Homo sapiens: one gene and its partners. The protein of the gene in region 1 purifies or fractionates together with the protein of each later gene. This does not show direct contact. Each region holds a gene or a part of one and is shown on either strand. Other genes may lie near its edges.

The links.
Region 2: the proteins of PCDHGA5 (region 1) and SNX14 purify together in Homo sapiens (affinity purification with mass spectrometry; 2 studies listed by BioGRID and IntAct, with this or other methods). This does not show direct contact.
Region 3: the proteins of PCDHGA5 (region 1) and EPHX1 purify together in Homo sapiens (affinity purification with mass spectrometry; 2 studies listed by BioGRID and IntAct, with this or other methods). This does not show direct contact.
Region 4: the proteins of PCDHGA5 (region 1) and GINM1 purify together in Homo sapiens (affinity purification with mass spectrometry; 2 studies listed by BioGRID and IntAct, with this or other methods). This does not show direct contact.
Region 5: the proteins of PCDHGA5 (region 1) and ACVR2B purify together in Homo sapiens (affinity purification with mass spectrometry; 2 studies listed by BioGRID and IntAct, with this or other methods). This does not show direct contact.
Region 6: the proteins of PCDHGA5 (region 1) and KLHL20 purify together in Homo sapiens (co-immunoprecipitation; 3 studies listed by BioGRID and IntAct, with this or other methods). This does not show direct contact.
Region 7: the proteins of PCDHGA5 (region 1) and KLHL13 purify together in Homo sapiens (co-immunoprecipitation; 2 studies listed by BioGRID and IntAct, with this or other methods). This does not show direct contact.

What each region holds. Positions count from the first base shown.
Region 1 is NC_000005.10:141,362,858-141,367,608, forward strand, and holds the start of PCDHGA5 (protocadherin gamma-A5 isoform 1 precursor), read left to right. Parts: upstream 1-1,304; 5' UTR 1,305-1,473; coding exon 1,474-3,894; coding exon of another isoform or gene 3,895-3,915; exon of another isoform or gene 3,916-4,751. UniProt on the Homo sapiens protein: Potential calcium-dependent cell-adhesion protein. May be involved in the establishment and maintenance of specific neuronal connections in the brain.
Region 2 is NC_000006.12:85,545,045-85,549,277, reverse strand, and holds part of SNX14 (sorting nexin-14), read left to right. Parts: intron 1-901; coding exon 902-977; intron 978-1,727; coding exon 1,728-1,772; intron 1,773-1,880; coding exon 1,881-1,961; intron 1,962-2,051; coding exon 2,052-2,166; exon of another isoform or gene 2,167-2,194; intron 2,195-4,233. UniProt on the Homo sapiens protein: Plays a role in maintaining normal neuronal excitability and synaptic transmission. May be involved in several stages of intracellular trafficking. Required for autophagosome clearance, possibly by mediating the fusion of lysosomes with autophagosomes.
Region 3 is NC_000001.11:225,833,580-225,837,812, forward strand, and holds part of EPHX1 (epoxide hydrolase 1), read left to right. Parts: intron 1-4,233. UniProt on the Homo sapiens protein: Biotransformation enzyme that catalyzes the hydrolysis of arene and aliphatic epoxides to less reactive and more water soluble dihydrodiols by the trans addition of water.
Region 4 is NC_000006.12:149,586,286-149,590,518, reverse strand, and holds part of GINM1 (glycoprotein integral membrane protein 1 precursor), read right to left. Parts: intron 1-4,233.
Region 5 is NC_000003.12:38,452,025-38,457,008, reverse strand, and holds the start of ACVR2B (activin receptor type-2B precursor), read right to left. Parts: upstream 3,120-4,984; 5' UTR 2,687-3,119; coding exon 2,635-2,686; intron 2,623-2,634; exon of another isoform or gene 2,395-2,622; coding exon of another isoform or gene 2,325-2,394; exon of another isoform or gene 2,189-2,324; intron 1-2,188. UniProt on the Homo sapiens protein: Transmembrane serine/threonine kinase activin type-2 receptor forming an activin receptor complex with activin type-1 serine/threonine kinase receptors (ACVR1, ACVR1B or ACVR1c).
Region 6 is NC_000001.11:173,717,384-173,721,616, forward strand, and holds part of KLHL20 (kelch-like protein 20), read left to right. Parts: intron 1-4,233. UniProt on the Homo sapiens protein: Substrate-specific adapter of a BCR (BTB-CUL3-RBX1) E3 ubiquitin-protein ligase complex involved in interferon response and anterograde Golgi to endosome transport.
Region 7 is NC_000023.11:118,106,593-118,110,825, reverse strand, and holds part of KLHL13 (kelch-like protein 13), read left to right. Parts: intron 1-4,233. UniProt on the Homo sapiens protein: Substrate-specific adapter of a BCR (BTB-CUL3-RBX1) E3 ubiquitin-protein ligase complex required for mitotic progression and cytokinesis.

The DNA of each region.
Region 1 (4,751 bases):
TTCAGGCTCTTTGTTATTCAAATTTTAGTTTTACTTCCTCTTAGAATCATAATACTTCAGAGTAAAGAGAGTCTTCATTTTAGTAGGCTTTGGAAATTGGGAAACAAAGAAGAAAGACTTTTGCATAATGGCATGGCTTGTTAATCACAGGGCATGGGTAGGACATTGTCCCATTGACTTGAAGACCAACACTCAGTAAGCTAAATGTCTTGGAATCACAAATGTATTTCTAAAGGACAGGCAATGTTTGAGGTCTGAGGTGTCTGCTAGAAAGAGTGCATTTAACAAATGTGAGAAATCATTCTCTAACATGCATTTTAACAAATTGCTCTTAAGAAAAACTACACATTGAGAAAAATCTTACAACCTATGTTCACATCATTTTCTACAAAATATTACTTAAAACTTTGCTTTTGAATTTCCTAATTATATAGAATTTTTATTTTCTTAGTTTTCTATGAAAGTGTTATTAAATAAAATGACTTTCTGAAATGTCCATTTTTTTCAATCAAGAGGTTTTTCTATTTCTGTTGTCATATAAAGATGATAGCAGTAAATATCTGTCTCAACATAGAAAGGTCACTCAGTACTTCTCGACAAGTATCTGCTCATGCTTTCCTGCATGGATGATGAAATAAAACCCCATCCTCCACAGTTACTATACTGGTTGTCACTGGAACTACAAATATTTGAACATGGTAATAGAAAAACATAAAAATGCATAGTTAACCCAACTCAAACGCTGTCTGAGATAGTGGAGAGACTTTCTCAAAGTCCTCACAAGTAACAAAGATCTTTATTTCTTCTGCATATGACAGCTAATATAACTTACATAAATCAGTAGGCCTGTTTGGAAAGGTGCATGGAGAACTGGGTTTGTTTCCTTGGTATTCTTATATGCAAATAAGCACGTTTTCCTAAATTTATCCTAATAAGGAGATGAAATCTTGAATCCTACAAAGGTAAGAATTTGAATGTCCTAATTTAATGGACTAAATATAGATAAGAGGTAAATAAAGGACATAGGCTCCCCCGATGACGCATTAAATAAAATTTTTGTAAGGTATTGAGATCTAATAATCATATTGATCTCAGGGATTGTGGAAGTCTTGCTATTCAGAATTAAAGCTGAATTAACGGTCATAAACAACGCTACACAGTTAAACATTAAGGATATGGCAACATTATTAGAAATAAAATTATAACTAAACTTAGGAGAAATAAAAATGGAATTTGATGCAGTCACTGGTTAGGACTCTGAGTGTCGCTGTTGACCAAAGTGGGAAAGAAGCTGCCGCAGAGGCGACCCGACTCTGCTCCCTCCATACTAAACACACAGACCAGACAAGCTCCTACGAAAAGCCAACGCTCCACGCCCATTTTCGTCAGGGAATATGTACCCATCGGCTTTAGATAAATAAGGAAACAGCAGGCTGAACCAGAACTAAGAGAAAATTGGGCAGAGAGAAGGCAATGGCGAGTCCACCTAGGGGCTGGGGCTGCGGAGAGCTGCTGCTGCCCTTCATGCTCCTGGGGACGCTGTGCGAGCCAGGATCCGGGCAGATCCGCTACTCGATGCCGGAGGAGCTGGACAAAGGCTCCTTCGTCGGCAACATAGCCAAGGACCTTGGGCTGGAGCCCCAGGAGCTGGCGGAGCGCGGAGTCCGCATCGTCTCCAGAGGTAGGACGCAGCTTTTTGCCCTGAACCCGCGAAGCGGCAGCTTGGTCACCGCGGGCAGGATAGACCGGGAGGAGCTCTGCGCTCAGAGCCCACTGTGTGTGGTGAACTTTAACATCTTGGTTGAGAACAAAATGAAAATTTATGGAGTAGAAGTAGAAATAATCGATATTAATGATAACTTCCCGCGTTTCCGGGATGAAGAGTTAAAAGTAAAAGTTAATGAAAATGCGGCTGCAGGGACACGGTTAGTGCTTCCCTTCGCGCGGGATGCGGATGTGGGTGTGAACTCTCTCCGGAGTTACCAGCTCAGCTCCAATCTGCACTTCTCTCTGGATGTGGTAAGCGGAACTGATGGACAAAAGTATCCGGAGCTGGTGTTGGAACAGCCCCTAGACCGCGAGAAAGAGACTGTTCACGACCTCCTCCTCACAGCTTTAGATGGCGGAGACCCGGTACTCTCCGGCACCACGCACATCCGTGTTACGGTCCTCGACGCAAACGACAATGCGCCCCTGTTCACCCCATCCGAGTACAGCGTGAGTGTTCCAGAGAACATACCTGTGGGCACTCGGCTGCTCATGCTAACCGCCACGGATCCAGATGAGGGAATAAACGGGAAATTGACCTACTCTTTTCGCAATGAAGAAGAAAAAATTTCGGAGACTTTCCAACTTGATTCCAACCTGGGGGAAATCTCAACTCTACAATCACTGGACTATGAAGAATCCAGATTCTACCTCATGGAAGTGGTAGCTCAGGATGGAGGCGCTCTTGTTGCCAGCGCTAAGGTGGTGGTCACAGTACAGGACGTGAATGACAATGCCCCCGAAGTGATCCTCACCTCTCTGACCAGTTCGATCTCTGAAGACTGTCTTCCCGGAACTGTAATCGCGCTGTTTAGCGTACATGATGGTGATTCTGGAGAAAATGGTGAGATTGCATGCTCTATTCCTAGGAATTTGCCTTTTAAATTGGAGAAGTCAGTTGATAATTACTATCACCTATTAACAACTAGGGACCTGGACAGAGAAGAGACTTCAGATTATAATATCACTTTAACCGTCATGGACCATGGAACCCCGCCCCTCTCTACAGAAAGCCACATCCCCTTGAAAGTAGCAGACGTTAATGACAACCCACCCAATTTCCCTCAAGCCTCCTACTCCACCTCTGTCACAGAAAACAATCCCAGAGGTGTCTCTATCTTCTCTGTGACAGCCCATGACCCCGACAGCGGCGACAACGCTCGAGTCACCTACTCCCTGGCTGAAGACACATTTCAGGGGGCGCCCTTGTCCTCCTATGTATCCATTAACTCTGACACCGGTGTCCTGTATGCTCTGAGATCCTTCGACTATGAGCAGTTGAGAGACCTACAGTTGTGGGTGACAGCCAGCGACAGTGGGAACCCTCCACTTAGCAGCAACGTGTCGCTGAGCCTGTTTGTGCTGGACCAGAACGACAATACGCCTGAGATCCTGTACCCCGCCCTCCCCACAGACGGTTCCACGGGCGTGGAGCTGGCGCCTCGCTCCGCAGAACCTGGCTACCTGGTGACCAAGGTGGTAGCGGTGGACAAAGATTCAGGCCAGAACGCCTGGCTGTCCTACCGCCTGCTTAAGGCCAGCGAGCCAGGACTCTTTGCGGTTGGGCTGCACACGGGCGAGGTGCGCACAGCGCGAGCCCTGCTGGACAGAGACGCGCTCAAGCAGAGCCTCGTGGTGGCCGTCGAAGACCATGGCCAGCCCCCTCTGTCAGCCACCTTCACGGTCACCGTTGCCGTGGCCGACAGGATCCCTGACATCCTGGCTGACCTAGGCAGTATCAAGACCCCCATTGACCCTGAGGATCTGGACCTCACACTCTATCTTGTGGTGGCAGTGGCTGCAGTCTCCTGCGTCTTCCTGGCCTTCGTCATCGTGCTGCTGGTGCTCAGACTGAGGCGCTGGCACAAGTCACGCCTGCTTCAGGCTGAAGGCAGCAGGTTGGCGGGTGTGCCCGCCTCGCACTTTGTGGGCGTGGATGGGGTTCGGGCTTTCCTGCAGACCTATTCCCACGAGGTCTCCCTCACCGCGGACTCGAGGAAGAGTCACCTGATCTTTCCCCAGCCCAACTACGCAGACACGCTCCTTAGTGAAGAGAGCTGTGAGAAAAGCGAGCCTCTTCTGATGTCTGATAAGGTAGATGCAAACAAAGAAGAACGGCGAGTTCAGGTTAGTTTTCTCTTTCGGTAAGGATGACCAGAACATTTTCATTTGTTTCCTTTTTCATGTTTCTGTCATATTCAGAATCAGCTAGTTATGTAAATAGTGGAACATTATTTGCTGTATTGGAGATTAATTTTTTTTATATAATTCATGCTTTCTCCATTTGTTTTCAAATTCTGTTTTGGGAAGTCTAGCTGATATCTGTAGACTTAAGTGAAACAAATACCTTAAAGGAAAGTGGTTAAATATAATCATTTTACCCAAATATTTTGTTATATTGGAACTGCAGTTCTATTAATAGAAAAGATGTTTTATTTATTCAAATTGTTAGATATATTGTTCTCTTTTGAGTGTCTGCCTAGACACCATTAGTGAATGTGTTTTGGAAAGGATAATGTATAGGACTGATATTTTAGTCTACCTGAAATTTGTTTAAGGAAATAATTTACAGTATTTACATAAATCAGTGGAAAGGTACAGAGAACTTCTGGGTCATAAATATCAGAAAAGAGGCCGGGTGCGGTGGCTGACGCCTGTAATCCCAGCACTTTGGGAGGCTGAGGTGGGCGGATCACGAGGTCAGGAGATCGAGACCATCCTGGCTAACACGGTGAAACCCTGTTCTACTAAAAATACAAAAAATTAGCCGGGCGTGGTGGCAGGCGCCTGTAGTCCCAGCTACTCGGAAGGCTGAGGCAGGAGAATGGGGTGAACCCGGGAGGAGGAGCTTGCAGTAAGCCGAGATCGCGCCACTGCACTCCAGCCTGGGAGACAGAACGAGACTCCGTCTCAAAATAAATAAATAAATAAATAAATAAATAAATAAATATCAGAAAAGTAGATAAAATTTATATTAATGATAA
Region 2 (4,233 bases), on another chromosome or scaffold:
ATGTTTAGATTATTCCATAAGTTACCTTGTTACTCTTACCCTAATAACCCTTAGAGGAGTAACCATGGCTTATTTTTAGTGATATTTAAAGTGATGTACTTTAAATACTACTTTTTGTTTAAAATTTTTATGTGGTTCTTAAAAATATTTTAATATTTTGATTACATGATTTTTATACTAGACTAGTTTATAATAGTAAATATGATTATAAGGTAATTACATTAAACATTAATTTAAATATATAATAAACATTTAAGTATTCTTAGATAGAAAGTATTTTCTTTCTTTCTTTTTTTTTTTTAATTATTTTTGAGACAGAGTCTTGCTCTGTTGCCCAGGCTAGAGTTCAGTGGTGTGATCTCGGCTCACTGCAACCTCTGCCTGCCGGATTCAAGCGATTCTCCTGCATCAGCCTCCCTATTAGCTGGGATTACAGGCATGCACCATCATGCCCAGCTAATTTTTGTATTTTTAGTAGAGACGGGGTTTCATCATGTTGGCCAGGCTGGTCTTGAACTCCTGACCTTGTGATCCCCCTGCCTCGGCCACCCAAAGTTCTGAGATTACAGGCGTGAGCCACCCCACCCGGCCGATAGAGAGTTTTTCCTAATGTCCCCCAAGTTCCTCCTGTTAAGGGAATACTTTTTCTTCTCTTAAGTAATATTCTATTTTAGCCAAGTAAGAACTCTAACTCTTTGCTATTCAACGTGTGTTCTGCAAACCAGTAGCATGAACATTGGTTGAGAGTTTGTTAGAAATGCAGACTTTTAGGGCCTAACCAAGACCTACTGAATTATAGTCTCCATTTTAACAAGATCCTTACGTAATTCACATGCACTTGAAAGTTAAGAACTAATATAAATCACTAAATATAAACAATTATTATTATTTCTTTTTCCAGATCTCTGACCTTACTTATAAGAGAGATTCTGTCTGGCTCTGTGTTCCTTCCTTCTTTGGATTTCCTAGCTGATCCAGTAAGACTTAAGATTTTTTTTTAAATTGTTACAAATTACACTTAATATAACATTTAGTATCTTAAACATTTTTATGTATATAGTCAGTGATACTGAAAACATTCATATTGTTGTGCAACCATCCCCATTCCCCATCTCCAGAACTCTTCATCTTATGAAATTGAAACTCTGCATCTGTTAACAATAACTCCTCATTCCTTCCTCCCTCCAGCCCCCCCTGGCAACCACCATTCTGCTTTCTGTCTCCATGAATTTGACTACTCTGGGTACCACATATAAGTGGAATCATAAGTATTAGTCTTTTTGTGACTGGCTTATTTCACTTAGCATAGTGTCTTCAAGGTTCATCCATGTTGTAGCATGTGTCAGAATTTCCTTCCTTTTCAAGGCTGAGTAATATTTCATTGTATGTGTATAACATGTTTTGCTTATCTGTTCATCCATTGATGGACACTTTGGATGCTTCTACCTTTGATCCAGTGAGATTTTGAAGAAACAAGAATGATTTAGAAATATTTTAAATGCCAAAATCAGAATAGCTTTTATTTGCCCATTTTCACAAAGGTTAAGAACCTGTTTTGTAGATGTAAAAAAACTCCTGCTGTAATACATATGTGCAGATTTTTTGCTACTGCTCCATTTATTTTTTCATTTTTCTAGAAACTTACATAATATGATACAAGTTATGAGAATTCTGGGGAGAATACAGTAGTGGAATTATTTTGACTTATGTTTATTATTTTCCACTAGGATACTGTGAATCATTTGCTTATCATCTTCATAGATGACAGTCCAGTGAGTATTGAATATATTAGAAAACACTTCAGATTGCATTGAATTTTGATTTTGTATGTCAAATCAAGTGGGAATTTTACTGAGTTAATAATTCTCTTTCTTTCAAAGCCTGAAAAAGCAACTGAACCGGCTTCTCCTTTGGTTCCATTCTTGCAGAAATTTGCAGAACCTAGAAATAAAAAGCCATCTGTAAGAATTTTCAGCAATAACACCTTTTTGATATAAACAATTTTAGAACTCATTTATATAGCTTAAACTTAATCTTTCTCTTATATCAAGGTGCTGAAGTTAGAATTGAAGCAAATCAGAGAGCAACAAGATCTTTTATTTCGTTTTATGAACTTTCTGAAACAAGAAGGCGCAGTGCACGTGTTGCAGTTTTGTTTGACTGTGGGTGAGGCTTACCTGTGTATTTTACGAAAGTAATTTTTAAACCTTTTAATGTATTTGAATATTTTAAATCAGATCTGATGTTGTGGTACCCATCTATCATTGTACTAAATTTCATATACTCGATTTCCTTTTTTTTTTTTTTTTTTTGTTTGAGGCGGAATTTCACTCTCGTTGCCCAGGCTGGAGTGCAATGGTGTGATCTTGGCTCACTGCAACCTCCGCCTCCTGGGTTCAAGCGATTCTCCTGCCTCAGTCTCCCAAGTAGCTGGGATTACAGGCATGTGCCAGCACCCCAGCTAATTTTGTATTTTTAGTAGAGATGGGGTTTCTCCATGTTGGTCAGGCTGGTCTTGAATTCCCGACCTCAGGTGATCCACCCACCTCGGCCTCCCAAAGTGCTGGGGTTACAGGCGTGAGCCACCGCGCCCGGCCATATACTTGATTTTCTAAGAGCATATGTGGGTTTCTCTCAAGTGCCCACTTCTTTCCAGATTGGGAAATAATCTGTCACTAACTTCATTCAAATCCTAGTAGCAGAAAAAAAAAATACTAAAAGTACAGTATAATGAAAATATATTAAAAACCCAAACTGTAGCCCATGTCAATATCACTTTTTCACAGTTTTTGTAAAGGATTGTTTTGACTAAATTATCAAATATAAGAATACCTCATTTTAATTATAAGCTCTGTAGCATTATAGATTATTGGATTTATAAGAAACTTTATAGACTGAAAATATTGTTTTTAATGCATTTAATTTCTTTTTAAAATATAACTTTAAAAATGAGGTATAATTTATATAGTGAAACACATGGAATTTAAATGTATAGTTTGATCAGTTTTGCATGTGTGTACATCCACGTAACCTGCATCTTTATCAAGATCTAGAACATTTATTTCCATCAGCCCAGAAAATTCCCTTAGGATCCTTCCCAAGAGATCCACTCTTTCCCCTACTCCTGCCAAAGCAATCACTGGTCTCATTTCTCTCAGCACAGATTAGTTTTGCCTGTATAATTTTTTTTATATAAATTGAATCACATAATATGTACTCCTTTGTGCCTAGCTTCCTTCACTCAGGATAATGCTTTTTAAAGTTCATGTATGTTTTTGTCTAAATAAGTAGTTTGGGCAAGGCGCAGTGGCTCATGCTTACAATCCCAGCACTTCGGGAGGCCGAGGCAGGTGGATCACTTGAAGTCAGGAGTTCGAGACCAACCTGGGCAACATAGTGAAACCCTGTCTCGACAAAAATACAAAAATTAGCTGGGCGTGTTGGCTCATGCCTGTAATCGCAGCTACTCAGGAGGCTGAGGCAGGAGAATTGTTTGAACTTGAGAGGTGGAGGTTGCAGTGAGCCGAGATCATGCCACTGCACTCCAGCCTGGGTGACAGAGTGAGACTCTGTCTCAAAAATAAATAAATAAATATGTAGTTTGTTCTTTGCTGAGTGGTATTCCATTGTATGAATGCATATATCTTTTAAACTTCATTATTAGGTGCAGACACATTTAAGATTGTTATATCTTCTTAATGAATTTATTCTTTTATCATTATAAAATGCTCCTCTTTTATCTTTGGTAATTTTTAGTCTTGAAGTCTGCTTTGTCTGATGTTAATATAGCCACATCATCTTTCTTTATATTTGAGTGTTCATTTGTATATCTTTTTCTATCTGATTGAAATGTTTAATGTATTTCTAGTAAGCAGCACATAGTTTCTCTCACTTTAAAAAAACCTAATTTAGTAATCTTTGCTTTTTAATTGGTATCTGTAGTACATTTACACGTGATATATTTATTATGTGTTTATTGTTAGGCCTTACATCTTGGTGTTTGTTTTATATTTGTCCTGTATATTCTTTGCCTTTCTTTTTCTCCTTTGCTGCCTTTCTTGAGGTTATTTTTTAGTATTTTATCTTTCCTATTTTTTTGAGTGTGTTCTGTTACTTTTTTGATTGATCAGAGATTTTCTTTTTCATTTATCATAGTCCTAATTTAAAAACATTTTACTGCTTCAGGAGCAGTGTAAGAACCTCAGTGTACCTCAGAGCATCCTCTCCTGCCTA
Region 3 (4,233 bases), on another chromosome or scaffold:
GGTCAGGAGGTTGAGACCATCGTAGCTAACACGGTGAAATCCTGTCTCTAATAAAAATACAAAAAATTAGCCAGGTGTGGTGGCGGGTGCCTGTAGTCCCAGCTACTCGGGAGGATGAGGCAGGAGAATGGCGTGAACCCAGGAGATGGAGCTTGTGGTGAGCTGAGATCACACCACTGCACTCCAGCCTGGGCGACAGAATGAGACTCTGTCTTTAAAAAAAAAAAAAAAAAACAGGCTGGGCGCCGTGGCTCACGCCTGTAATCCCAGCACTTTGGGAGGTCAAGGCGGGCAGATCACAAGGTCAGGAGATCGAGACCATCCTGGTCTAACTTGGTGAAACCCCGTCTCTACTAAAAATACAAAAAATTAGCCGGGCGTGGTGGCAGGCGCCTGTGGTCCCAGCTACTTGGGAGGCTGAGGCAGAAGAATAGCGTGAACCCGGAAGGCGGAGCTTGCAGTGAGCCCAGATTGCGCCACTGCACTCCAGCCTGGGTGACAGGGCAAGACTCTGTCTCAAAAAAAAAAAAAAGAAAAAAAAAAAAAGCCGGGTGCGGTGGCTCACACCTGTAATCCTAGCACTGTGGGAGGCCGAGGCGGGTGGATCCCAAGGTCAAGAGATCGAGACCATCCTGGCCAACATGGTGAAACCCCGTCTCTACTAAAAATACAAAAATTAGCTGGGCATGGTGGCACGTGCCTGTAGTTCCAGCTACTCGGGAGGCTGAGGCAAAAGAATTGCTTGAACCAGGGAGGCGGAGGTTGCAGTGAGCCGAGATCGCGCCACTGCACTCCAGCCTGGCAACAGAGCAAGACTCCATCTCAAAAAAAAAGGGAGAAAGGAAGGATGGACGGAAACCTCGACTTGGAGGTGCCAGGGCAGCAAACATCCTTGTTCTGATGCAAGCAGGCCAGGCCTGTGGGAGAATGAGCCAGAGAAAAGCTAAGTCAAATCCCAGTGGTGTGTGTCCTGGAACTAGAGCCCATCCTGGAGCTCAGCCAAGAACACTAAAAAAAAAAAAAAAAAAAATCTGGAATGATTTTTTGGATCAAATTTGGACTTCTCTTGAGTGTTGCTGTATTCTTTACAGTAATTTGATATCTTCTATTATGAGCCTAACAAGAGGATCCAAGCCACTTAATCCCAGCCAAACTGCTGTATGCAATTACCATAGGTTCCTGTTTGGATTCCTGGCACGAAATTGCCTGGCTTCCTTGAGTTTGACTTGGATCCCTGTGTTGTCCCAGCTCTTCAGTGTCCATCCAGCAGAAACTAACAGGGCGCCTGCTGTACCCAGGCATTCTGCTGGGGCTGGGGACGCATAGAGAGGACAGGGTCCCTCCTTCACAGCTCATAGGCTCTTCAGGGGCAATTCCAGCACATAGTGGCGGTGTTCTGAAGGAGGAGGCTCTGGGAGCTTCATGAGCCCCACAATCTTCCTTTGAATGTGAGGGAAGGCTTCCTGGAGGAGGTGGCATCTAAGCTGAAATGAGTGGGACTTTGCCAGGTGTGTGGGGAAGGTGGTCCAAGAAAGGGGAACAGCATGTTCAAAGGCCCAGAGGCAGGAGGCAGTAAAGGGCCCTTTCCATCCTGGCAGCTGCCAGCCTTACCCCACTGGACCCTTTCAGGGTTCTTCATGAGACTGGGTTTTTTTTAGAGACAGGGTCTCACTCTGTCAGCCAGGCTGGAGTGCAGTGGTGTGATCACAGTTCATTGCAGCCTCAATTTCCTGAGCTCAAGCGATCCTCCCACCTCAGCCTCTCAAGTAGCTGGGACCACAGGTATGCACCACCACACTAGGCTTTTTTTTTTTTTTTTTTTTTTCTTGAGACGGAGTCTCGCTCTGTCACCCAGGCTGGAGTGCAGTGACGCAATCTCGACTCACTGCAAGCTCCGCCTCCCAGGTTCACGCCATTCTCCTGCCTCAGCCTCCCGAGTAGCTGGGACTACAGGCGCCCGCCACCATGCCCAGCTAATTTTTTGTATTTTTAGTAGAGACGGGGTTTCACCGTGTTAGCCAGGATGATCTTGATCGCCTGACCTCGTGATCCACCTGCCTCAGCCTCCCAAAGTGCTGGGATTACAGGTATGAGCCACGGCACCCGGCCTTTGTTTTTTCTTTCCTTTTTTTTTTTTTTTACATTTTTAGTAGAGACAAGGTCTCACCATGTCACCCAGGCTGATCGCAAACTCCTGGGCTCAAGCAATTCTCCCACCTTGGCTTCCCAAAGTATCAGGATTATAGGTGTGAGCCACCACACCCAGCTGACATTGGGCATTTATGGTACAAAACCTCCCTCAGGTACAACGGCTCCAAAAGAGCCAGTTTCCAGCATTGAATTCATCGTGGACTTACCCATGTGTGGTTCTGGCACCCTGCCCGGGGCTGGAGGCCTGTTCTTGGCCTTGGTCCTTTAGAATAGGAGTAAATTTGGCAACATAGGAGGACACCCAGGATACATTGTTAAGTTAAAAAAAAAGAGATTCTAAAATAGAATGTATGTATGGTTCTATTTTTGTTAAAAGTTATGTTCTCTAAGTCTTTTTAAAAAGTTTGAACTGTCACAGCCAAGAAGGGTCTAAAGAGACATGACAGCTCAGTGGTGTGTGAGTCCTGGATGGGATCCTGGAACAGAAAATGGATATCAGGGGAAAAACTGAGGAAATCTGGCTCATATTTTGTTGTGTGTAGATACCAGCATTATCCAGGTTTTAAAAAGGAGAAAATCCTGGCCGGGTGTGGTGGCTCACGCCAGTAATCCCAACACTTTGAGAGGCCAAGGTGGGAGGATGGCTTGAGCCCAGTAGTTTGAGACCAGCCTGGGCAACATAGCGAGACCCCTTCTCTACAAAAAAAAATAACAAAAATAGGCTAGACATGGTGTTGCCCACCTGTAGTCCCAGCTACTTGAGAGGCTGAGGTGGGAGGATCACTTGAGCCTGGGAGGTTGAGGCTGCAGTGAGCCGTGATTGTGCCACTGCACTTCAGCCTGGGCAACACAGTGAGACCTCATCTCTAAAAGAAGAAGAAAAAAAAAGGAAATCCTGCAATGTGTGACAACATGAATAAACTCTGAGGAAATAATGCTAAGTGAAGTAAGCCAGGGACAGGACAAATACCGCATGATTCCACCTATAGAAGGAATCTGAAATAGTCAAACTCAGCAGAAGCAGAGAGGAGAAGGGTGGTTGTCAGGGGCTGGGGAATAGGGGAAACGGCATTGCTGATCGTTGCTGTGTAAAGTTTGAGTCCTGCCAGCCGAATACATCCTAGAGATGGGCTGTACAGCAGAGCGCCGTCAGTGTTGGACACTTACAATCTGTTAAAAGGGTAGGACCCATATTAAGTGTTCTCGCCATATAATAAAAAGTGTAAACACTAAGGAAATCAATGGACTTTATAGTTAATAATATCTCAGTCTGGTTCGTTAATTGTAATAAATGTACCATGCTAACATAAAATATTAATAATGGAGGAAACCCGGTGGGTGTGAGGTATATGGGAGTTTTCTGGATTCTTTGCAGTTTTTCAGCAATCTAAAACTGTTCCAAAATAAAGTTTAGACAGACAACACCATGTTTTCTTTAGAGAGTGGGATTACATGTGAGTCTTCCCCCTTTGGCTTATCTGTGTTTTCTAAGTTTTCTACAGTAAACATGTATTATTTGTATAATATATTAACGACAGAACAGAACATTAGCTAGACCATGCTGACTGCACCAGCCCTGGTGGCAGAGAGTTCCAAGCATGGCAGCCGCCCTCACTGTGAATGCCGTAAGGCCCCAGGTGCTGTCCAGGGCACTGGCCTGGGAAGGGGCTGCCTTCTTTTGATATGCAGAGGCCCCAAGTCAGTCCAGAGGAGACAAGAATCCATTCACCTGCCCTTGGCTATGATGATGTTTTCAGCATTGCACTTAAAAAAAAATCTTCCACTTTATTTTATTTTAATTTTTTGAGATGGAGTCTTGCTCTGTTGCCCAGGCTGGAGTGTGGTGGTGTGATCTCGGCTCAGTGCAACCTCTGCTTCCCAGGTTCAAGCGATTCTCTTGCCTCAGCCTCCCGAGTAGCTGGAATTGCAGGCGCCTGTCAGCATGCCCGGGTAATTTTTTTGTATTTTTAGTAGAGACGGGGTTTCACCATGTTGGCCAGGCTGGTCTTGAGCTCCTGACCTTAGGTGATCCACCCGCCTCAGCCTTCCAAAGTGCTGGGATTACAGGCGTGAGCCACCACA
Region 4 (4,233 bases), on another chromosome or scaffold:
AAGTTCATTATTTCCTATTTTAGGGAAGAATAGGGTAAGTATAGATCTCCAAGGCAGAGTTAGGTTCCTAGATACACCCAGGCTGAGCAAAAAGCCTAAGCCTAAGCCTCTCTCTAAATAATACTCACCACCACAACACAACCTTAGGTCTTTAGATAGTGTTGCTCTTTTTGTTACTTAAAATCCCTGACCAGAGAGTACGTCTTTGGATTGAATCTAGGACCCTGCATTGTAAATTCAGTGTTATTCTAATAAGAACATCAACGGGGGTTAGTTGTTTATAGAACCAAACAGATTCTAAAGTTCACAGGGGAGTAACTGCAAGAACAGCCATAAGATTTTTTTTAAAAGAACAATGGGGAGAAGACAAAGTTGTCTTAAGTAGCTCTCAAAGGTTTTATTAAAACATGATAGTAGGCCAGGTGTAGGGGCTCACACCTATAATCCCAGCACTTTGGGAGGCCAAGGCGGGCAGATCACTTGAGCCCAGGAGTTCAAGATCAGCCTGGGAAACATGGCAAAACCCCATCTCTACTAAAAATAGAAAAAATTAGCTGGGCATGGGACACATGCAGTCCCAGCTAGCTAGCTATTCAGGAGGCTGAGGTGGGAGGATCGCTTGAACCCGGGAAGTGGAGGTTGCAGTGAGCCGAGATCGTGCCACTGCACTGCCGCCTGGGTGACAAAGTTAGCCCCTGTCTCAAAAACAAAAACAAAACATGAGAGTAATTAAAACTGTGCTACTGGCACAGGAATAGACAAATAGATCACTAGGACAGAAAACAGTCCAGAAAAAGACTAACATATATGGAAATTTAGTTTATAATAAGGTAACATTCTAAGTCAATGATAAATTACTAATGGAAAAATGGCCTCTGTCTGGGAAACAAAATGAGAACTCTAGCTTTAAAAGTATACAGAAAAGTAATGCTAAAAAATAAATTTTGGCTGGGTGCAGTGGCTCATGCCTGTAATCCCAGCACTTTGGGAGGCTGAGGTGGGTGGATCACCTGAGGTCAGGAGTTCGAGGCCAGCCTGGCCAACATGGTGAAACCCTGTCTCTACTAAAAATACATAAATTAGCCGGCTGTGGTGGTGCACGCCTGTAATCCCAGCTACTCGGGAGGCTGAGGCAGGAGAATCTCTTGACCCCGGGAAGTTGAGGTTGCAGTGAGCAGAGATTGTGCCACTGCACTCTAGCCTGGGCAACAAAGCGAGACTCTGTCTCAAATATATAAATAAATAAATAAATAAATTTTAAGAAAATATAATGGCTGGGCACAGTGGCTCATGCCCTTAGTAATCCCAGCACCTTTGGAGGCTGAAGCAGGAGGACTGCTTGGGCCCAAGGAGTCCAGCCTGGGCAACATAGTGAGACCCTGTCTCTACACAAAATAAATTTTTTTTAAAAAAATGGCTGGGCACGGTGGCTCACGCCTGCAATCCCAGCACTTTGGGAGGCCGAGACGGGTGGGTCACTTGAGGTCAGGAGTTCGAGACCATCCTGGCCAACATGGTGAAACCCATCTCTACTAAAAATACAAAAATTGGCCAGGCATGGTGGCGGGCGCCTGTAATCTCAAGCTATTCAGGAGGCTGAGGCATGAGAATTGCTTGAAACCAGGAGGTGGAGGTTGCAGCAAGCCAAGATCACACCACTGCACTCCAGCCAGGGCAACAGAGCAAGACTGTGTCTCAACAACAACAACAACAACAACAACAAATTAGCCAGGCAGGGTGGCAAGTGCCTGTAGTCCCAGCTACTTGGGAGGCTGAGGCAGGAGGATCGCTTGAACCCAGGAGGGTCAAGGCTGCAGTGGGCCTTGATAGCACTGCCACTGTACTCCAGCCTGGGCAACAGAACAAAACCCTGTCTTTAAAAAACAAAAAACAAACAAAAAAAGCCCCATAATTTTAAGATAGGAAAGTCTGGCCTACTTAGTAGGCAAAATAAAAACCCTACATGCTGTAAAGGAATAACATGAATTACTTAGGCCTTGAATTTAAAGCTTTTGTATGATGAGATACCATAAATAAGCAAAAGACAAACGATAGGCTGGGATTAGTAAAAAAATCTGCAATGTGCATTACATATGTATAACAGACAAAAGAGCTCTTATATACTAATAGTTACAAAATGCCAACACAATTGAAAAATGGCCAGAGGCTCTACGTAAGCAAGTCATGAGAGAATCATATATAGCCAATTATCACAAAGATGTTGAACCCACCCAGACCTAAACTAGCAAAGATGCTAGTAAGATGAAAATGCAAATTAAGATGAATTATATTTTTAGTAGCAAAACCAAAAAAGATTATCATCAGGTTGTAAGGAGTTAATACAATTACTTGTGACACAGTAATTTTACTTTTAGGAATCTATTCTACATAAATACACATGTGCAAAGAAATATATGTGCAAGGATGTATACTAGAACATTATTGGGATTAACATGAAATTGGAAATTACCTAAATGTTAGAGGAATGGTTATATTAAGGTATATCTATACTGTGGAACACCTGTGATATTATGACTTGTAAGTTCCTCTGGCTTCCTGGAACAGCTCCTAAAATCCTTAAATCTCCAAAGTGGTAAGTATCTTTTGGATGCTAATGATGACTGATGGCTGGGGGATCCTGGATAGCCTCAACAGGGGAGCTGGTTGCCAGGGGTATCAACCATGAGATCAGTCCCATCCCCCAACCTTGGGGAAGGGAACGGGGTACTGAAGGTTGAGTTGATCACCAGTGACCAATGATGTAATCAATCATGCCTGTGTGATGAAACCTGCAAAAGAACCCAAAAGGACTAGCTTTGGAGAGCTTCTGGATAGCTGAACACACAGAGGTATGGGACCTGGATAGAGGTGCACCTAGGGAGGGCAGGGAAGCTCTGAACCCCTCTCCCCCTCCCCATGTCTTGCCCTATGCACTTCTTCCATCTGCCTCTTCATGTTTCCTTTGTAATAAACCAGTAAGTGGAGGTGTTTCCCTGAGATCTGTGAGCCGCCCCAAAGACGTCCCAAGCAAATTAATCAAACCCAAAGAGGAAGTCATGGCAACCTCTTTATACCCAGCTGGTCAGAATCACACATCACAACCTGGGGCTTACAACTGGCATCTGAAGGGGGGCAGTCTTGTGGAACTAAGCCCTTAGCCTGTGGGATCTGACGCTGTGTCCAGGTGGAAAGTGTCAGAACTGAACTGAATTAGAGGACACCCAGCTGGTGTCCACTGGAGAATTAGTTATTGGTGGTGAAAAATCCCCACACACGTATTGGTGCCCAAACGTGAAGTACTCCAGAGTGTCAGAGTAGGAAAAACCAAAGTATTTTTCCTATGCTTTGGTTTTTCCTATCTCCTTTAGAACTATGCAGCCATAAAAAGAATAGGTAAGCTATACATAATTATGACATGTCAGTTAAAAATAATATTAAGGGCTGGGCATGGTGGCTGATGCCTGTAATCCCAGAACTTTGGGAAGCCAAGGTGGAAGGACTGCTTGACCCCAGGAGTTTGAGACCAGCCTGGGCCAACCTGGCCTCTACAAAAAATAAATTAAAAAAATTAGCTGGGCATGGTGACACACACCTTAGTCCTAGCTACTCAGGAGGCTGAGGTGAGAGGATCACTTGAGTCTTGGGAGATTGAGGTGAGAGGATCACTTGAGTCTTGGGAGATTGAGGCTGCAGTGAGCCATGACTGAGCCACTGCATTCCAGCCTGGGTGTCAAGGTGAGACCTTGTCTCAAAAATAAGTAATAAAAAATAAAATAGAATTAAAATAACTAAGGGGACAAAAAAGAATATATGTAGTGATAAGAAAAGATCTTAGGTCTATGGTTCCCAAACTGCACTGAGGTCCCTGGGTTGGTGAGCAAACTCACAGAGGCACCACAGAATAATATAAATTTTCAAGAGACTTCATGTGTAATATTACCTTGAGGTTACTTCATGCTTTTAACATTAGATTGCAAAACATTCAATGAAGTCAATCTTTCCAAAGCTGGGTTTTGGTGGTGCTAGATTTGGAAAGTTTTTCCCCTCCAAACCTCATGTTAAAATTTAATCCCCTATGTTGGAGGTGTGGCCTAATAGGAAGTGTTTGGGCCATGAGGACAGATCCTTCATGAACAGATTAATGCCCTCTCTGGAGGGGAAGGGAATGAGTTCTCATTATTCATTCCCTGGAGACCTGGTTGTTAAAAAGAGCCTGACACCCCCCTGCTGTTC
Region 5 (4,984 bases), on another chromosome or scaffold:
GGTCTCGATCTCTTGACCTCGTGATCCTCCCACCTCAGCCTCCCAAAGTGCTGGGATTACTGGCATGAGCCACTGTGCCAGGCCAGTAAAATATACTATTGAAGTTCATTCCATCTCATGGAAAGAATGTGTCCCCCCAAAATTCATACAATGAAGTTCTGACCCCCAGTGTAATGGTATTTGGAGACGGGACCTTTGGGAGGTAGTGAGGGTTAGATTAAGTCATGAGGGTGGGGCCATCAGGTAATGAGAACAGGATTCACAGTCTTACAAAAAGAGGAAAACACCCCCTTGCCCCACCCCACCCCTGTCATTTGAGAATGCAGTAAGAAGGCAGATATCTGCAAGCCAGGAAGAGGGTCCTCACCAGAACCCAACCATGCCAGCACCCTGCACCCTGGGCTCAGACTTAGAGCTTCCAGAACTTTGACAATATAAATTTCTGCTGTTTAAGCCACCAGTCTACAGTATTTTGTTATGGCAGCCCCAGCTAAGACACAGCTGTTTCTTCTTCCTTTTATTAACACGACTACTAGAAAACGTTGTTTTATATCTATCCATAGTTCATACACTATTTCTGTCACACAGCACTCTTCTAGATGTTCCTTCTAGCAGGCATTGTGTGCTGCACAGTATGGGGGTTATTCCAAACAGCAAGCCAGGAGCTTGAAATTAAAGGGCATCCCTGAAGCCAAAGCAACAGGACGGTCAGGTCTGCTCCAAACTGGGCCTGGGGCAGCTCTTTTCACAGTTCTCCACAGGTCAGGGACTGGTTGATGTGACTACAAGAAATACCCAGTGACCCCCACCTTCCTCCCAGGGCAGGAATACAGGTCCTTATAGTGTGACTCTGACTGCCCCCTGGCAGGGTACACTGCTCAGCACTGCCCAAGCTAGGTGACTGAAGCAGAGGAAAAAGAAAGGACATACAGTCCTTCCAGGGGTCTGATGCCGCCCTGCCCTGCCTAAGGAGGGAGGTGTGAGACTGGTGTGATCCCCAGATCCCAGGTCTCAAGCTGTCCTGTCTTGGGAGGAAGCTCTCCTAAAGGCCTGGGCTTGGAAGAGCCCCAGCACTTCCAGGGATCAGGCACCCAGCGGGTCTGGAGGCAGTCAGGTGGGCTGCGGTCTGCCTATCAAGTCAGCTTGCTGCCGCCCTCCCTCTAGCAGACCAATGCCTCCCCTTTCACTTTCGAGCACTCCTTCTTGGGGAAAAGGCATCCCAAGGGAGCGGGGCAAAAAAGAGCAGAAAGTCCAACACGACCACCACTTCGCCTCCAAGAAGCGGCTCCAGGAGAGCTGCAACGCCCTCTTCCATACGGTACTCAGGTGCCAGCTGGTCTTTGCCCTTCGGTTTCCGGACTCAGGCTGCGCGCGCGCGCGCTACTACCCTACAGAACTCACTCGCTTTCGGTGTAAACTAAGCCTCACGACGACGCACAGGAGAAGGTAGAACCAGGGTGGGAATGGGACGCAGATCCCAAATCCCCACCCCCGCAGCAGCGTGGGGACTCCGGCCCCGCCCCTGCACGCCCGGCCCCGCCCCTCGAGGGTTTCCCAGACTCCAGGCGGCTGCCACCGAGGGCGGCGGGGGACCCGCGCTGCATGTGTAATGGGGGCTGGGAACAAAGACGCGCAGGACCCGGCGGCCGGGTACCAGCCGCCCCGACCTTCTCGCCAGAGCTTCAATGCCCAGCTCCCCACGTTTCCCAGGACTGGCCAGGGGACGTCCCGGCGCGCCCGCCGGGGTTAGGCGCACCCCGGCACCACTGAGAGAGGGAAATCGGTGCTTGGACCGTAGGAGAAACAAGCTTTCCAGGCGGAACTCCGCTTGTTTACGCCCGCGCCCACATACCCCCAAACACACATGCGCTGGCCGAACACCTCCAGCCACACGCCCGCAGCCGCGGGCGAGCTGAGCGCTGGTCACCCACCCCGCCACGTGCCTCCTGGAGGCCCGAAGGAAGAGGGACCTGTTGGGTTTTCCATCTTACCCACCCCCTCCCCTCCCAAGTGCCCAAACAAAGCGGTCCCGCGAAGCGACCACACTCCGCATCCCGGGGCCAACGGCAGGGAAAGAGGGAGCAGGTGGGAGCCAGCACCAACAGCCCGCCGGGCCGGTAACGCGACGCAGACTGGTGGCAAGAGATGCAGGGGACTTTGGGCTGCGTGAAGCCGCCCCCTTCGCTTCGCTACACTTAGTGACTCTGAGGGACATGCAACCCTCCCCGCATGCTGCTGCTGCTGCTGCACCTACAATCCTGCCACCCCCAATGAGATCTGCCCACCCCTCTTGGCCGCCTTCCCCACGCTCAGGTTTTCCTCACTCTTTCCCTGGGTTCCACGCGCCCGCGTAGCCCGAACTCCGACCCTGAGGCTCCGCGTCCCGGCCCCCATCGCAGGGGCGCCTCTAGGAACCAGAATCCCGCAGATGACTGCACAGACAAGATCGTGCCCCCAAGTTCGGCGAGCCGGGCGCCCACCGCGCCCCCAGCCCACGCCCCCGGAGGTGAGGGCTGAATACAGGTGGTGCGGCGACGAGGCCCCGGGCCCGCCCTTTGTTGGTAAACACCGCGCGGCGCCAGAGGCCAGCCCCGCGCGCCCTCTCGGCGTCCCCGCGCCGCGCCCAGTTCTTACCGGCGCACAGCGATCCCCAGAGGAGGGCGAGGGCCACCCAGGGCGCCGTCATGTTCCGCGGCGCCGCCCCGCGCACACCCGGAGCCCGCGGGCAGGGCCGCACGGCGCTCCCGGGGCGCGCAGGGCCAGGCGGCGGCTGCGCTCTCCTTCCCGCTCCTTCCTTCGGTCTCGTTCCCTGCGCGCTTCCTGCGCCTTCGTCCCCGAGCAGCGTTCGGGCTCCAAGGGCCGGTCGGCGGGGCCGGGCTCAGGGCCGCTGCGGGCGGCGCAGGCTGCGGCCCGGGCTCCGGGGCGACGCGGGGGCCGGGGGGCGGCGGCGGGGCACGGGCCGGGGCGCGCCCGACTCAGGCATAGCGCGGCGGGGCTGGGCCCGGGCCCCGGGCGCAGGGGCCGAGTCCGGAGGGGCCATGAACGGGGGGAGGGGTGGGGGGGAGGGGAGCTGAACCGAGTCCAAAATGGCTCCTGAGCGGCGGCCACGGAGCCGAGCCAGCGGGGAAACCCGGATGTTGGATACAAAGAGGCGGGCGGGCTGGGCGGGGAGGGGGAGGGGAGGCGGGCCCTCCGGCCGCGTGGTCCGCGCCCCCCTGAGGGGCGGGGCCCCAGAGAAACAACAACACGGAGGCCCCGCCCCCATCCCGCGCCCTGTGGGAGGACGCGCGTGCACCAACTTGCTGGAGGACAGGGCGGGGCGCGCGGACGGAGGTGGCGGGAATGGGCTCCTGACCACTTTGCCCGGGAGCCTGTGGCCACTGCACTCGCAATTAGTGCCCCGCACGCTCGAGCCCAAGCTCCTGACACATGCTGCCCTACAACCCCGGAATGAGTGGATAGTCCCGGGACTCTGGCCCAGACGCCTCTGTGCCTTGGATTCCCCACCTGTGCAATGGGGGTGACAGTGAACCGTGGGAAAGTCGGATCTCTACTGATGGGCGAATTAAGTGGCAGAAAGAGGCTGACTTCCCTGAATTGACAAGCAGTCTCCCGTCTGCAATCCCTTGCCACACACTCAAAGGCACAGCTAGGGCGGGGAGTGGTCATTTAAACCCAACCAAGTGAGGGAGCGGGCAGAGTCCCGCCCCTCTAAGCCCAGCAGGTGGAAAAGGGCCTCTGGCAACCTGCTGGCCCTCCCTAATCCTATCTTGTCTTCTGCAGTTCCTGCGCCACCCACAGCGGCCCTGAGCTTCAATCTGCACTTTCAAAACTTCCCAGTTGCCTCCAGAGCCCTGCAGTTGAAGATCTTGTCTAGCACATGGTTTTGCTGTTTTCCTCACCCCGAACTCCCTCCTTGGAGGGCCATCGTTCTCTGTCTCAGATTCCACCCTCCTTATCACACAACTAGAGCTTCGGAGGAACGTGATGGGGCTCCCAACTAAGGAGGGAAAGACCATCATAGCTCAGGGATGAGGCTCCGAGATCCTCAGATAACATTAATTGTCCTCTGTCTTCTCTTGACTTGGCACATCCTTGCTTGGAGCAGGGCAGGAGCAGCTGAAAGGGAGGTGGCACCTGGAGGTCTCAGTCATTTCACTTCTCTGAGCCTCAGTTTTCCCATATGCAAAGTGAAGAGGTACACTCCCTCAGGGTTTTGCATCTTCTTAATGGCAGAAACCTAGTCAAACAAAATATTATGTAAATGTTCACTATAGGCAGGGCGAGGTGGCTCAAACCTGTAATTCCAGCACTTTTAGAGGCCCAGGAGGCTCTTGAGGTCAGGAGTTCGAGACCAGCCTGACCAACATGGCAAAAACCTGTCTCTACTAAATAATACAAAAATTAGCTGGGCATGGTGACACACACCTGTAATTCCAACTACTCGGTAGGAGGCTGAGGCAGGAGAATCGCTTGAACACAGGAGGGAGGCGGAGGTTGCAGTGAGCTGAGATTGCACCACTGCACTCCATCCTAGGTGACAGAGTGAGACTCTCTCTCAAAAAAAAAACAAGTTTATAAAGGAATGTATATTGTTCTGATTGACATTGAAATAGGGTCAACTACCCCCGGTCACCAGAGCAGCAGGAACACCTCAGGGGCCACACTTTGGAGGCACTGCCCAGAAAGATTTCTGGGTCTTTAAAAGTCCCTTCCAGTCCTGGGAAATTCTATGTGAAAATGATGGTCCCTGCTTGCTATAATCCCTACAGGTGACTTATTATCTAAGCCATTTAACACAGGATTGAATACTATGCGACTGTGTGCCAAGCAAGAAGCAGTGTTGTATGGGACACCCTAGCTGTGTATAAGGTATCTGGTAATAACACAGGAGGCCACAGTGATAGACTGTGATAACGGAAGTAATTCCATATCCAGTTTAAGTGTCTTTTCTAGGGAGTATAAATCGTTATCTCCATTCCAA
Region 6 (4,233 bases), on another chromosome or scaffold:
TCTAGTGCTGTTAATCGTTAAGCTACGGCTCTTTCTTCATCACTGTCACTTGGCCAGAGCCTAGCCTACTCACATTGGTCTCTGGTCTTACTTTCACCTGCTTCCTACATTCAATCATGGTCACACTTCCCTATCCTTTTCTTATTGGGCTGTCATTTTTGCTGATTTAACCCAGAAGGCAGTCTCTGTAATGCTGGGTTTATACTCAGTTGCTATTAAAGAAGCTTTGAGAAGTAACTTTTTATATTGAGACTATTTGAATACATGTTCATTCTGTCTACTAGATTGTGAGCTCTTTTAGTCTCATGTCTTCCTATATTTGCATCACTAGCACCTAACGATTACTGAATAATTGTTTGAATAGGACTGAACAGTTTCTGCAGACTTTCCCCCTCCAAAAAACAAAAAAAATCTATGAACAAGACTGAAAATTATTGTTAAAGGTATTCTAATTTTTGATTATAAAGTTTTATGAAATCAATTGGCATTTTATTAGTAAAGTTTCATTACCTCATTTATTTATGTACTATCATTTGCATAGCACAATGCAAAATTTAAAAGATACAATAGGATATTCAGTGAAAAGTTAACTCTCCCATTGCTGACCCCAGTTCCCAAAGGCAACCACTGTAAGCAGTTTCTTATGCATTCTTTTAGAGGCATTGTAGTTCATACACAAATGTATATAAGATGTCTTCTCTTTTCACTTTTTTAATTTCTATTTTGTAGATACAGGGTTTTGCCATGTTGCCCAGGTTGGTCTCAAACTCCTGGGCTCAAGCAGTCCCCCTGCCTAGGCCTCCCAAAGTGTTGGGATTACAGGCGTGAGCCACCACACCTGGCTAACATTAGTAGCTTTTAAAAAGAAAAGATGGCTAGGCACAGTGGCTCACACCTGTAATCCCAGCACTTTGGGAGGCTGAGGTGGGCTGATCCCTTGAGCCCAAGAGTTCAAGACCAGCCTGGGCAACATGACAAAACCCCATCTCTACAAAAAGGAAACAAGAAAAATTTAGCCAAGTGTTGTGGCAGATGCCTGAAGTTCTAGCTACTCAGGAGGCTGAGGTGAGAGGATCACTTGAGTCTGGGAGGCAGAGATTGCAGTTAAGCCGTGATCATACCATTGAACCCCAACCTGGGCAACAGAGCAAGACAGTGTCTCAAAAAAAAAAAAAAAAGACACAAATGTTGTAGGGCATAGTGGTTCACACTTGTATTCCCAGCTACCCAGCTACTTAGGAGGCTGAAGCAGGAGGATTGCTTGAGCCCAGGAGTTCGAGGCTGTGGTGATCATGCCACTGCACTCCTGCCCGTGTAACAGAGAGAGACCCCATCTCTTTAAATAAATAAATAAAAATAAGAAAATGCATTTGAAAGGACACTGTCAGTATATCATGCACATTCTTCTGTATCTTTATTCACTTGAAAAATTATTTTGTGGCTGGGTGCGGTGGCTCACGCCTGTAATCCCAGCACTTTGGGAGGCCGAGGCAGGCGGATCACAAGGTCAGGAGATCGAGACCATCTTGGCTAACACGGTGAAACCCCGTCTCTACTAAAAAATACAAAAAATTAGCCGGGTGCGGTGGCGGGCACCTGTAGTCCCAGCTACTCGGGAGGCTGAGGCAGGAGAATGGCGTGAACCTGGGAGGCGGAGCTTGCAGTGAGCCGAGATTGCGCCACTGCAATCCGGCCTGGGCTAAACAGCGGGACTCCGTCTCAAAAAAAAAAAGAAAAATTATTTTGTAAATTGTAACAAATGCATATAGACTTACCTTATTCCTTTTAATAGTTATGTAGTATTCCATTGTCTATATGCACCTTAGTTAACCAGTCCCATTTGAGAGAGATTTATTTCAACTGTTTTGCTGTTACAACCAGTTCTGTCTGCAATGAATATCCTTGTAGGTGGTTTTTGCCCAGATGTGTAAGTATAGAATAAGTTCTGGCTGGGCGCAGTGGCTCACACCTGTAATCCCAGCACTTTGGGAGGCTGAGGCGGGCAGATCACAAGGTCAAGAGATCGAGACCATCCTGGCCAAGATGGTGAAACCCCTTCTCTACTAAAAATACAAAAATTAGCTGGGCATGGTGGTGCGTGCCTGTAGTCCCAGCTACAGTGCCAGTCAGGAGGCTGAGGCAGGAGAATCACTTGAACCCAGCAGGTGGAGGTTGCAGTGAGCCAAAATCGTGCCACTGCACTCCAGCCTGATGAAAGCATAAGAATCCGTCTCAAAAAAAAAAAAGAATAAATTCTTAGATTTAGAATTGCCTAAAGATTATGTACATTTTTTTAATTTTGGTGGACATTGACAAATTTTTGCCCTTAGAGTTACACAAATGCATAGTCTTTACCAACAATATGTTTGTTTCCCAAGATATTAATTTTCAATCATTCATTTTATTAAGAGATACCAAATATTTTGTAATTAATTCTTCCAACTTTCCTTAAATATATAAATAGAAAACTGAGCTTGATTGTAGAAATTGGTTTATTCATATATCAAACCTTTATATAGTACCACTCTATTCCTGTATATTGTGTGATACAGATCAAGTGATGAGAACAGATATAATGATACAGTATTGGCGTGGTACAGTGACTCATACCTGTAATCCCAGCACTTTGGGAGATGGAGGAGGAAGGAAGATCACTTGAGCCTAGGTGTTCAAGGCTGCAGTGAGCTGTGACTGTGCCACTGCACTCCAGCCCGGATGACAGGGCGAGACTTCATCTCTAAAATATAATTAATTAATTAATTAACAAACAATGTTAACAGAATTTTAATAGAGATGTAAACTTAAGAGGAGGGAACTGCTCTGTGGAGATGAGGAAGCATCACAGAGATGGTAACATTTGAGCTAGATCTTCTAGGAAGAATAAGAATTTACTTCTAAAGAAGGGAGTTAATTAAGGACACCATAAAAGGAAGGAACAGCTTGTGCAAAAAAAAAAAAGATAAGAGAGAGTACCAAGACCCAGAATTGTCTGACATGCATGGAACAGTGAGTATATGTGGAGTATAGGGTATTTTGAGGAAGAAGGGGAAGTAGAAAACATGGAAATTGAGGCTACAACAGTGGGAAAGAATTCAAACTTTATCCTTTAGGTATTTAAGAGCCAATGGACATTATTATATACATCGTTTGTTCTTTGAACTGATTTCTAGGCACATAGGGGATGGATTGGAAAGAGGGAAGAAATTATGGCAAGGAAATGAATTTAAAGTAGTTGTGGTAGTTTAGATGAAAGATGATGAGAACCTGAAGTATATCTATGGCAGTGAGGGTTGAGAGAAGTAGATGGAATTGAGAGCTTGTATAATAGTAAAATCAAAAGGATTTGGTGAACATGGAGTGAGGAAGAGATAGTGTTATAAATGACTCCAAACTTAGGAAACCAGATGCCGCCATGATAAGATTAAAAAGAAAAATACAGGAAGAGGAACAGGTTTCAGTAAGCCAAGAATAGATTCTGTTTCATATACTTTAAGATTATTGTGTTTAGGAAACAGCCAGGTGGAGATATCCAGCATGTGATTGGAATATGACTCTGGGGCAGAAGAGAGATTTGGGCTAGAAATTTAAAAAAAAAAATGTGAGTCATCAATACTAAGAAGGTTCTTCAAGCTGTAGGCATAAGTGATGGTAGAACAGAAAAGGAGAATGCTGAGGACAGAACTGTAGTGAGTACCAGGGGTGTTTACGATGGGGCCTAGCAGGAAGGCCCCATAAAGTCTCTAAAATGAGTAAGAAGCTTTACATGCTTTGGGTCTTATTTTATTTAACAGTATCTAGAGTTTTTATTGATAGTTTTTTACTCACATTGAAGGATAGCTGAGCTACTCCTTCAGTTCAATTTCAGAAGACAAAATTTCCAATCTCGTATCTTTGAAATTTTCAATTTGTTCTACTCAGTCTAAAGTGTATGCTTAAAAATAGTGTAAAACATACTTGCTTGATTTGACTATTCCCTAGTGTGGCATGCACTGTAGGTTAGCTTGCACATCTCTTCTTTTCTTCCGTCTACTATAGACACTAGAAAATTAAATACTCTGAGTTCTTAGTTGTCTCTGCATATGGGAAGGGCTGTGTGACACAGTGCTACCAATGAGATGTCAGCAGTAGTTGTTGAGGGGTATTCTAGGAAGGCTTTTGCTATCCTGATATAAAGGGAAACTAGCATGCTTGCATGAGGATTTACCCTTCCTGCTCCATCTTGGTCTCGATCAC
Region 7 (4,233 bases), on another chromosome or scaffold:
CTTTAGCACAAGAGAGTCTTTTGTGGGGGTGGGGGTAAGAAATTCAGTTAAGAACTTATTTAATGTGATTAGACACTTATTTTTTTGCAGTTGTTGAACATTTATTGAACTGCTAATGTGTATAGAAATCTGTATTAAGAGCAAGAGAAGGCCGGGCATGGTGGCTCACGCCTGTAATACCAGCACTTAAGGAGGCCGAGGCGGGCGGATGATAAGGTTAGGAGATCGAGACCATCCTGACCAACATGGTGAAACCCTGTCTCTACTAAAAATACAAAAATGAGCTGGGCGTGGTGACATGTGCCTGTAATCCCAGCTACTTGGGAGGCTGAGGCAGGAGAATCGCTTGAGACAGGGAGTTGGAGGTTTCAGTGAGCCAAGATCGTGCCACTGCACTCCAGCCTGGTGACAGAGCGAGACTCAGTTTCAAAAAAAAAAAAAAAAAAAAGAAAAAGAAATAGAAAAGTAGAAAAGAGAAAGGTAGAAAACAAATGAGACATGATTCCTGACCTTCCTTAGCCCCAGCGCCCTGCATGGTTACATGGGGACATGAGTGTGCGTTACAATTCTTTATTTTCCTCTGTAAACTTGACATCATTAAGATTAAAAACATGCAAAGGAAAACCCAAGAGTTAATTGAAAACTCTTCTTAGCGTCCATGATATGAATTGGGTTTTAATTATCCTAACACAACCCCCCTCAGTATTATCTTTATATAACATCTTGACAGCCTTTTCCTTTCTAACTAAACTAAAACAACATGGATTTTCTTGTTCTTTACCAATACACAATTGGTGTATTTTCTTTTGTTTTTGGTAGAGATGAGGTCTCACTATGTTGCCCAGGCTGGTGTTGAACCCCTGGCCTCAAGTGATCCTCATGCTGTGGCCTCCCAAAGTATTGGGATTACAGGCATGAGCCACTGTACCTGGCCTGTTTTTTTTTCCTTCGGTTTTGTGGGGTTGCCAGTAATTACATGTCTCAAAGGATTTTTTCTGCAGTTTTCTTGCAGTTGAAAACTAGTCCTTGAAACTATTCTGCCAATTCATTCAACAAATACTTATTAAGTGCCTATTATATTCCAAGCATTGTGCTAGTCTAAACAAATAGAATCTCTGTCTAGTGCTCTTTCCATTACTTTGGGTCCTTCAAAGTGGAGCACATGTACTGATTGAGCAGGGTGGTGACAAGGTGGTGCTCCCAGGAGCCACAAAATAAAGCAGCTTGTATTTTCTTGAAGCATCTGTTTTACACAGAGATTTAGGAGAACATTAACTGGTAGCTATTTAAAAATCTTTAAACAAATTCAGATACATTCTGCCTTAGAACGCAATATTCATAGAAAATCTGAGGCAAACCCCAATATTTCAGAGAAAGTCTCTGCTTGCAAGGGCAGCTGTGGTAACCCTGAGATGACCCTTTGGAAAGCACTGAGGTGGTGCTGTACTGCCCGAATCTGTTCTTTTAGTCAAACACCCAAACATTTTCATAGCCGTAAATTCCCATGATGACCTGTGGGAAAGTTAATGGACATAAATGTTTTTCTCTGTTGCGCAATTTCAAGGGTACATGTTGGTTACCCTTGGTCTAATGGTCTAAATCTAAACATGTGTTGAGTTCTTACAGAGTTTTTAATGTTGGTGGGTAATGGCTAAGAGTGACTATGAAGGACCTGCCTAGGGAATGATATTTTCAGAATAGAGGTTATTAGGCCTGACGCAGTGGCTCACTCCTGTTATCCCAACACTTTGGGACGCCTAGGCGGGAGCATTGCTTGAGCCCAGGAGTTCAAGACCATCCTGGGCAACAAAGCGAGACCCTGTCTCTATAAGAACAAAAAAAAATTTAAAAATTAGCTGGGCATGGAGGCACACGCCTATAGTCTCAGCTACTCGAGAGGTTTAGGCAGGAGGATCCCTTGAGCCCAGGAGTTCAAGGTTGCCGTGGGCTACAATCACACCACTGCTCTTCAGTCTGGGTGACGGAGTGAGACCCTGTCTCAAAAAAAAAATCTAAAAAAATTTTTAAAAAAGGCTAGAGGTTATTAGAACACAAGGACCACAAACTTAAAGCAGCACAGTTCATGGTGTCAAAGCTTTGCCTTGTTCTGTGCACACTTGCCTGTCTCACTGATTTGAAGTTCACTTTTGCTAACTTTAAAGCTGCTTTCATTTACAGCATAGTATACAAATTGGTTTGTTAATTGCTGGCCACTGAAATAGTTAATACTAGAAGAAAGTTGTCAAGGATTAAGTGCTTTGAGGTTGATAAAAGGTTTCTACAGTTTGAGATGGTTTTGAAAATAGGCCAGCAGAGCATTGGAGGAATGCCTGTTACAACGTGATGGTTTAATTTGCTCCAGATGAGAAAGATGAAGAAGAAAAAGGCAAGTGAAGAAAGGGGGTGAAAGTAAATGGAGTAAGTCAAACACTAAATCTTTCAACTGATTTTCATTATTGCAGTCCCACTTTCATTGTTGTTGTTCCATGCCAGACATAGTTCACAGGGCCTGACATTGTTATATTGTTGTGTTACTGCTCAAATCTTGTAAGGACATGGGTATAGAGGATTGTGATTAGTGGATGGTCTTTATCGTCTACAGGTGAAGTGCTTTTACAGTCTATTCAGTAAAAGGAGATAAGAGTTTTGCTTGTAGTTTGTAGAGTTTTCTTTCTTGGTCCCACTTTTAAAAAAATGGTGATACATTTCTAAAGATCACTTCATTTCAACAAAGTTTTCTGTTCCACTCTTGGATGTTTCTTTTTTCTTTTAAGACAGGGTCTCATTCTGTCACTCAGGCTGGAGTGCAGTGGTGCAAAGTCAAGGCTCACTACAGCTTCAACCTCCCAAGTTCAAGTGATCTTCCCACCTCAGCCTCCCAAGTAGTTGGGACTGCAGGTGCATGCCACCACGCCTGGCTAATTTTATGTATTTTTTGTAGAGACAGGGTTTCACCATGTTGCTCAGGCTGGTCCTGAGCTCAAGCAATCCTCCTGCCTCAGCCTCCCAGTTTGCTGGGATTACAGACATGAGCCACTGCACCTGGCCTCACTCTCAGATATTTCTTAGTGGAAAGGCAGTAGAGCTTAATGGCTATGATCTTGAACCCTGGAATCATAGGCTTGGGTTCAAATCCTGACTGCCTTTTGTTGGGCAACTTGCTTCACCTCTCTGAGCCTTGTTTATCTCCCTTGTAAACTATCTCATCTAGTTTAAGGATTAAATTAATAATGCGTATAGAGTGCTAAGCACACTTAAGCCACATATGAAATATAACTATACTTATTATTATTTTCATAGATTTGTGGCTAAATTAGTTGATAACTTGGAGCATACTATAGGACCTTGGCCAATCATATATGAAGCAGAAATGTGAGGGGAAATTGTGTGTCTTCTTTGTTTATATTGTCTTAATCCTAGCTGGAATGCTATTTTTCGAATGTGCATCTCGTAAATGGTGAGTAGACTGTTTAGAAGTAACACTAGTTTTCTGGCAGACAAGAAAGTTTATGGTGAATGTTGGCTTATTACTTACTCAAATATGGCATCACATTGATTCCAAGAAAAATGTCAGTTTTTAATACAATTAGCCCAATATATATTTAAATGTGATACTGTTTGGGTTAATAGGATTTTAAATTTTAATATCCATTTTGAAGGAAAAGGGTTATGCAGGATAATGTATACTATGAACAATGTTATCTTTTAAACATGAAAACATTTGGTTTTCTGATAATCACAGGGGTCACACATTTTTCTGATTTATCTCTAATTGTTCCAGATTTTAAGTCCCCAAAGAAGAAAATACTGAAGCATTTGTAATAGTTAAGCCATTGGGAAGAGGTATAATTCTGTTGTGAATAATGTCTTCCTATGGATTTTGAGTTGTTATGGTTATTTCAAGTTTTTATCATGGTTACTGTAATAACAAATCAAATAATACCCTAAGAGAAGATAAAAGTTTGATAGTACCTTTGATAAATGAATGGATAAGTCTAAATGGAGTATTGAGAACAGCTTTAGGTGTTAGAGGGATAGACTAATCTTTTAAGTTGAGAGTACATGAATCTACCTTTCCTACTTTCTTACATGATGCCCTTTAGTTCCAATGTCAGACAAATGATGAGAGAGATAATCCTTGGTGATGAAATGCCACAGGTGCACAGAAGGGAAAAGACCAGGTAACATATTGGTCATATACTGTATATTCACAGGTTTTTATGACCGTTATTA